2 separate regions of the Homo sapiens genome follow, and region 2 is linked to region 1. Evidence: fine-mapped expression QTL. A gene starts in region 1. The other region holds a variant in brackets. All regions are shown on one strand. Distances are between the middles of the regions. Region 1 holds the start of PVR (PVR cell adhesion molecule). Region 2 overlaps IGSF23 (immunoglobulin superfamily member 23).

Evidence for each region.
Region 2: its variant is fine-mapped to the expression of PVR in whole blood (GTEx, PIP above 0.99).

Annotation. Positions count from the first base shown.
Region 1 is chr19:44,642,025-44,644,898 of GRCh38, forward strand. It overlaps PVR (PVR cell adhesion molecule), which reads left to right and starts at 1,886. Exons shown (of 8, transcript NM_006505.5): 1 at 1,886-2,151. The coding sequence starts at 2,073. RefSeq lists a silencer at 1,838-1,917.
Region 2 is chr19:44,616,562-44,619,469 of GRCh38, forward strand. The region is part of intron 1 of IGSF23 (immunoglobulin superfamily member 23); the gene reads left to right. Among named protein-coding and RNA genes, the nearest start is that of IGSF23, 4.5 kb to the left of the region's middle. The variant A/G (reference allele first, on the strand shown) is at 1,552.

The DNA of each region.
Region 1 (2,874 bases):
GCACTTTGGGAGGCCGAGGTGGGAGGATCGCTTGCGGCCAGGAATTCAAGGCCAGCCTGAGCAACATAGCGAGATCCTATCTCTACAACAAATTTAAAAACTAGCTGGGTGTGATCACATATGCCTGTGGTCCCAACTACCCAGGAGGCTGAGGCAGGAGTTGAGCCCAGGAGGTGGAGGCTGCAATGAGCAATGATGGCGCCACTTCACTCCAGCCTCAGTGAAATAGTGAGACCCTGTCTAAAAATAATAATAAAAATAAAAAACATATAAAGATGTCAGAGCACAGGGACCAGAGCTGTTAGTCGGCCTCATGGAGACCCTGGCCAGGACAGCCACCTCTGGGGACCAGGAAGTCTCTCAGTTTCTGTCTCTGAGGGTTTGGCTCTCTGAGTCTCTCTGTCACCTCTCATTTCTCTCTCATCTCCCTCTGTCTATGCTGTGTCTCTATCTCTTTCAATCTCTCTGTCTCTGTCTCCCAGCCCTTATCTCTGAGTGTGTCTGTTTCTCTCTCATTTCTCTCTCTCTCTCTCTCTCTTTCTCTCTCTCTCTTTCTCTCTCTCTCTTTCTCTCTCCCCCCTCCCTCCTCCCCTCTCCCTACTGCAGGCTGGTCCATAACCCTTATCTTCCCCAGACCTGATGGAGTTCTGGTATTAATCTGTTTATGGTCTGTTTCCCTCCACTAGAACACGGTCTTCATTAAAGGCAGAGATTTTTGTCTGTCTTATTTTCTGCTGTATACCCAGTGCCTGGGATACTGGCTGGATCAATAAATATATGCTGAATGAAGAATGAATGAATGACCATTCTCATGAACATTATTATTTGATGCCAACTGTAAAGCAACAATAATAATAATTGTCACTGCCACTGCTGCTATTGTTGGTATATCAGCTTTTTATTTAGTACAAACTATATCCCCGAAATTGAGCTAGGCAGTTTCTTGTTTAAGTTTTACAGACCACGCTGTGAGGTAAGTACTGTTAGTATGCCCTTTTTTCTTTCTTTTTGAGACAGAGTCTCACTCTGTCGCCCAGGCTGGAGTGCAGAGGCCCGATCTTGGCTCACTGCAACCTCTGCCTCCCGGGTACAAGTGATTTTCCTGTCTTAGCCTCCCCAGTAGCTGGGATTACAGGCATGTGCCACCATGCCGGCTAATTTTTGTATTTTTAGTAAAGATGGGTTTTTGCCATGTTGGCCAGGCTGGTCTTGAACTCCTGGACCTCTGGTGATCCTCCTGCCTCGGCCTCCCAAAGTGCTGGGATTACAGGCGTCAGCCACTGCGCTTGCTCCCCCAGCCCCCAAACTTTTTTTTTTTTTTTTGAGACAGGTCTGGCTCTGCCACCCAAGCTGTAGTGTAGTGGCGCAATGGTAGCTCACTGAAGCCTCTAACTCCTGGGTTCACACAGTCCTCCTGCCTCAGCCTCCCAAAATGCTGGAATTCAGGCCTGAGCCACCGCGCCCTACTATGCCCATTTTTCAGATAAAGAATCTGAGGGCCCTCGAGGAGAAACCACTTGCCCAACATGAGCCCTGGTCTTGTCTGACCCCAAAGCCCATGGGAAGTTTAGGCTGCGTGGAAGGACAGCCTGGTGGGCTCAGGATCTGTCCCATCACGAGTTGGAACCTCAGCTCTGCCACTCGGCAACCGCGAGCCGTTAGTAAGTTGCTGAATCTCTCCGTGTGCCTCCGTTTCCTCACCTGGAATGTGGGCGACCTCACACAGGAAGCCGCCTCTTCTAGTGGGCACCGACGGAGCGAGCGCGCGTCTGCAGCGGGACTGAGCGCCGGGAGAGACCTGCGCAGGCGCAGGCGCGCGGGGAGGGCCAGCCTGGGTGGCCCACCCCGCGCCTGGCGGGACTGGCCGCCAACTCCCCTCCGCTCCAGTCACTTGTCTGGAGCTTGAAGAAGTGGGTATTCCCCTTCCCACCCCAGGCACTGGAGGAGCGGCCCCCCGGGGATTCCAGGACCTGAGCTCCGGGAGCTGGACTCGCAGCGACCGCGGCAGAGCGAGCGGGCGCCGGGAAGCGAGGAGACGCCCGCGGGAGGCCCAGCTGCTCGGAGCAACTGGCATGGCCCGAGCCATGGCCGCCGCGTGGCCGCTGCTGCTGGTGGCGCTACTGGTGCTGTCCTGGCCACCCCCAGGAACCGGTGAGTGACCCCCGCGCAGTCCGGTGGCCCCTGTCTGGCTCCCAGCTCCGCATCCAGGCCGGGTACTCGCCCCCTTGGGTTCCCGAAGATGACGGCCCCGCCCGGCGCCACCCACCCCCCATCTCTGCCCCGGGGTTGGAAGGAACACGGTGCGAGGGTGCGAGGGCAGGACCCTCCTCTTGGCCACCCGGAGAGCGGTCGGAGTTGGGTACAGAAATTCCTCGAAATTGGCAGCAACACGGGTCGGGCACAAGACCCTCCTCTGGGCCCCTCGGAAAGGGGATGGAGTTGGGTGAGGAAATTTCCCAAAAAGGCAAGTGAATCCCGGAAAATCAGCAGATGGTGACGCATGCCGGATTACCTTACCCAGGTTCCTGCTCAGCATACCCAGGCCATAACCCAGCAGCGTGCTGGCAGGCTGGGTCTGGACGGAGGGGATGGTTGATGTTGGGGAGGAGGACAGTGGGTGACACTTGACACCATTACCCCTCTGACCCCCAATGTCTGACTCCAGGGGCCTGGCCATTCATTCATTCTTTCATTCTTTTTTTTTTTTTTTTGAGACAGTCTCACTCCATCACCCAGGCTGGAGTGCAGTGTCCTGCTCTCGGCTCACTGCAGCCTCCTCCTCCCGAGTTCAAGCGATTCTCCTGCTTCAGCCTCCCGAGTAGCTCGGATTACAGACATGTGCCACTATGCCTGGCTAATATTTTTGTATTTTTA
Region 2 (2,908 bases), 25 kb before region 1:
TGGCGCACGCCTGTAGTCCCAACTACTCGGGAGGCTGAGGCAGGGGAATCACTTGAACCCGGGAGGTGGAGCTTGCAGTGAGCCGAGATTGCACCACTGCACTCCAGCCTGGCGACAGAGCGAGACTCCATCTCAAAAAAAAAAAAAAAAGAAGAAGGAAATAGAAACAATAACAAGCATAAAGCTTGAAAAAAAAAAACAGTAAAAGTTTCCAAAACATAGTGTTTATTTCTAGGAGTCTAAGTTTTCTGCTATAAAAATGGAAATAAATAAATATATATATATGAGTATATATGAGTAATACCATATATGTAGAGAGAGAGAGGGAGAGAGAGAAAAAGAGAGAGAGAGAGAGGGAGAAAGGTCTTGCTCTGTCACCCAGGCTGCAGTGCAGTGGCAGGATCATAGCTCACTGAAACCTCAAACTCCTGGACTTGAGGAATCTTCCCACCTCAGCCTCCTGAGTAGCTGGGACTACAGGCGCGTGCCACCATGCCCAGCGAATTTTTTATTTTTGTAGAGACAGGGCCTCACTCAGTTGCCCAGGCTAGTCTTGAACTTCTGGCTCAAGTAATCTTCCAGCCTTGCCCCACCCCTCCCCCCGCCCCCGCAAAGTGCAGGATTACAGGTATGAGCCAACACACCGGCCTACTCTTATATTAAAAAAAAAAAAAAAATGCCTATCAGGAGTGAAAGGATTAGGTGTGGTGCCCAAGAGACGCAGGGATTCTTTTTGGGGTGACGAAAATGTCCTTAAATTGCTTGAGGTGATGGTTGCCCAATTCTGTGAGTATACTAAAAGCTCTTGAATTGTACGCTTTAAATGAGTAAATTATTGGCTAAGAAAGTAGATTTTATGTGTTCTCACCACAAAAAAAATAAGTACATGAGGTAATGCATATGTTAATTAGCTCAATTTAGCCATTCCACAATGTATATGTATTTTAAAACATCACATTGTACACCATAAATATACACAATTTGTATTTGTTAATTTTAAAAAGAAAAAATAGTGGCAAGGTTATAACTTAATCAGTGTCCAGAACAAACATTATGTCACCCTTTAAAAATGTACCATTCACATTGATTTATAACCCTTTATTATTTCTAAATAAGGTGGTGAGAAAATGTTGGGTGAGGGGTTGGGTAGGAGTAAATGGAGCAAAGCAGATCCCAGAACCAGAAGACATTAGTAGTATATGGAGAGAGACACTCAACAGGAGCTGTGGGCTGGAACAGAAGGACCCAGCCAACTGTAGGACTAATCCCTTCAAGCTTACTCCCCCGCTGCCCTCTCCTCTTCTGCCAACGTGCCCACTGACAGAAACCAACCAGCAGCAAAAGGTAAGGGGACCCCAACAACACAGCTCAGAGAAGTCAGCCTTTCAGGCAGCAGAGTGGAGCAGAGAAGGGTAGAAAACCAATTTTTGCAACATCCAGTATAATATACGTGCGTGCTTCAAGGGGTCAAGGAGAGGAATCAATGATTCCTCCTCCTTCCCTGCTCTTCCAAGGCGCCCTGCTCACATCCTGCACCTGCTCTGCCTTCTC[A/G]GAGCTGCCCTTCTCGGCACAGCTGAACACCTTGACCGAAGGAGCCAGTGTCCATCTTCCTGTCCCCGGAAGGCTTGAAGGCATTCTCACCACGTCTTGGTTCTGAGGGTATGACGCCCAGCCAGCAGCCATGATATTCTCCCCGAAGGGCCTCCCAGGACCTGCTCACACTGGCCGGGAGATGCTGGGAACCCAAGGCAGCCTGGTCATTAGAAAATGACGGCTCAGGACTCGGGCAGCTACACCGTCGTGCTGGAAACCAGCAGGGGACACAGGAGTGTGACGGAGCAGATCCATGTCAAGAGTGAGTGGGGCCCCGCAGTGGGAGGGGCTGACTTCTCAGAAAGCAGACCCACTGGACCTCAGAAGAGCCCACCAGGACACTTTGCATGCTGGTTATCCATTGCTCCCCAATAAACCACCCCAAAACTTAAAACATCAATCACTTATCTAGCTGGACAGTTGTTGTGTTCAGCTGTTGGGGTGTCTGGGTGTTGGCTGGTCCAGAATGACCTCCTTCATGTGCCTGGCCATGGACCAGCTGGTGGCTGGAGTGATGGGGATGAGTGGGCCACATAGCCTCCCAACCTCCAGCAGGCTATCCCAGGCTTGTTCACTCAGCAATGGAAGAGGAACAAGAGGTAAAGCTGCAAAACTCCTTCAGGCCCAGGCTCAAAACTGACCACCATCACTTCTGCCACCTTCTATTGGTCAAAGCAAGTCACATGGCCAGCCCAGCTTCAACAGGAAGGAAAAAGGCCCCACCTCTTAAGGAGAGGAGTTGCAATGTGTTGTGGCTATTTTTTGTCGTTGTGTTAGATTGTTCTTCCATTGCTATAAAGACATACCTGAGACTGGGTTATTTATTTAAAAAAAAAAAAAAAAGAAGAAGACGTTTGATTGGCTCATGGTTCCACAGGTGGAAGTGTAATGCCAGCATCTGCTCAGCTTCTAAGGAGCCCTCAGGGAGCTTTTAATCATAGCGAAGGCAAAGGAGGAGCAGGTGTCTCCCGTGAGAACAGGAGCAAGAGAAAGAGAGAGTCAGAGAGGAAGTGCCACATTTTACAACAATCAGATCTCATGAGAACTCACTACCATGAGGACAGCGTCAAGCCATAAGGGATCCGCCCCTGTGGCCCAAACACCTTTACTGAGGCCCCACCACCAACACTGGGGATCGCATTTCAACATGAGATTTTGGCAGGGATAAATATCCACATTATAACAGCCAAGACTTGCAACAGACATTCATGAGATACGCATTCATCATCACTTGGGAAAGGTAGAGAAGGTCTGGTAGCAGCCTTCAACCTCATCTATATTTTTATCACCTGGACTCAAACTTTCATATCTGAAT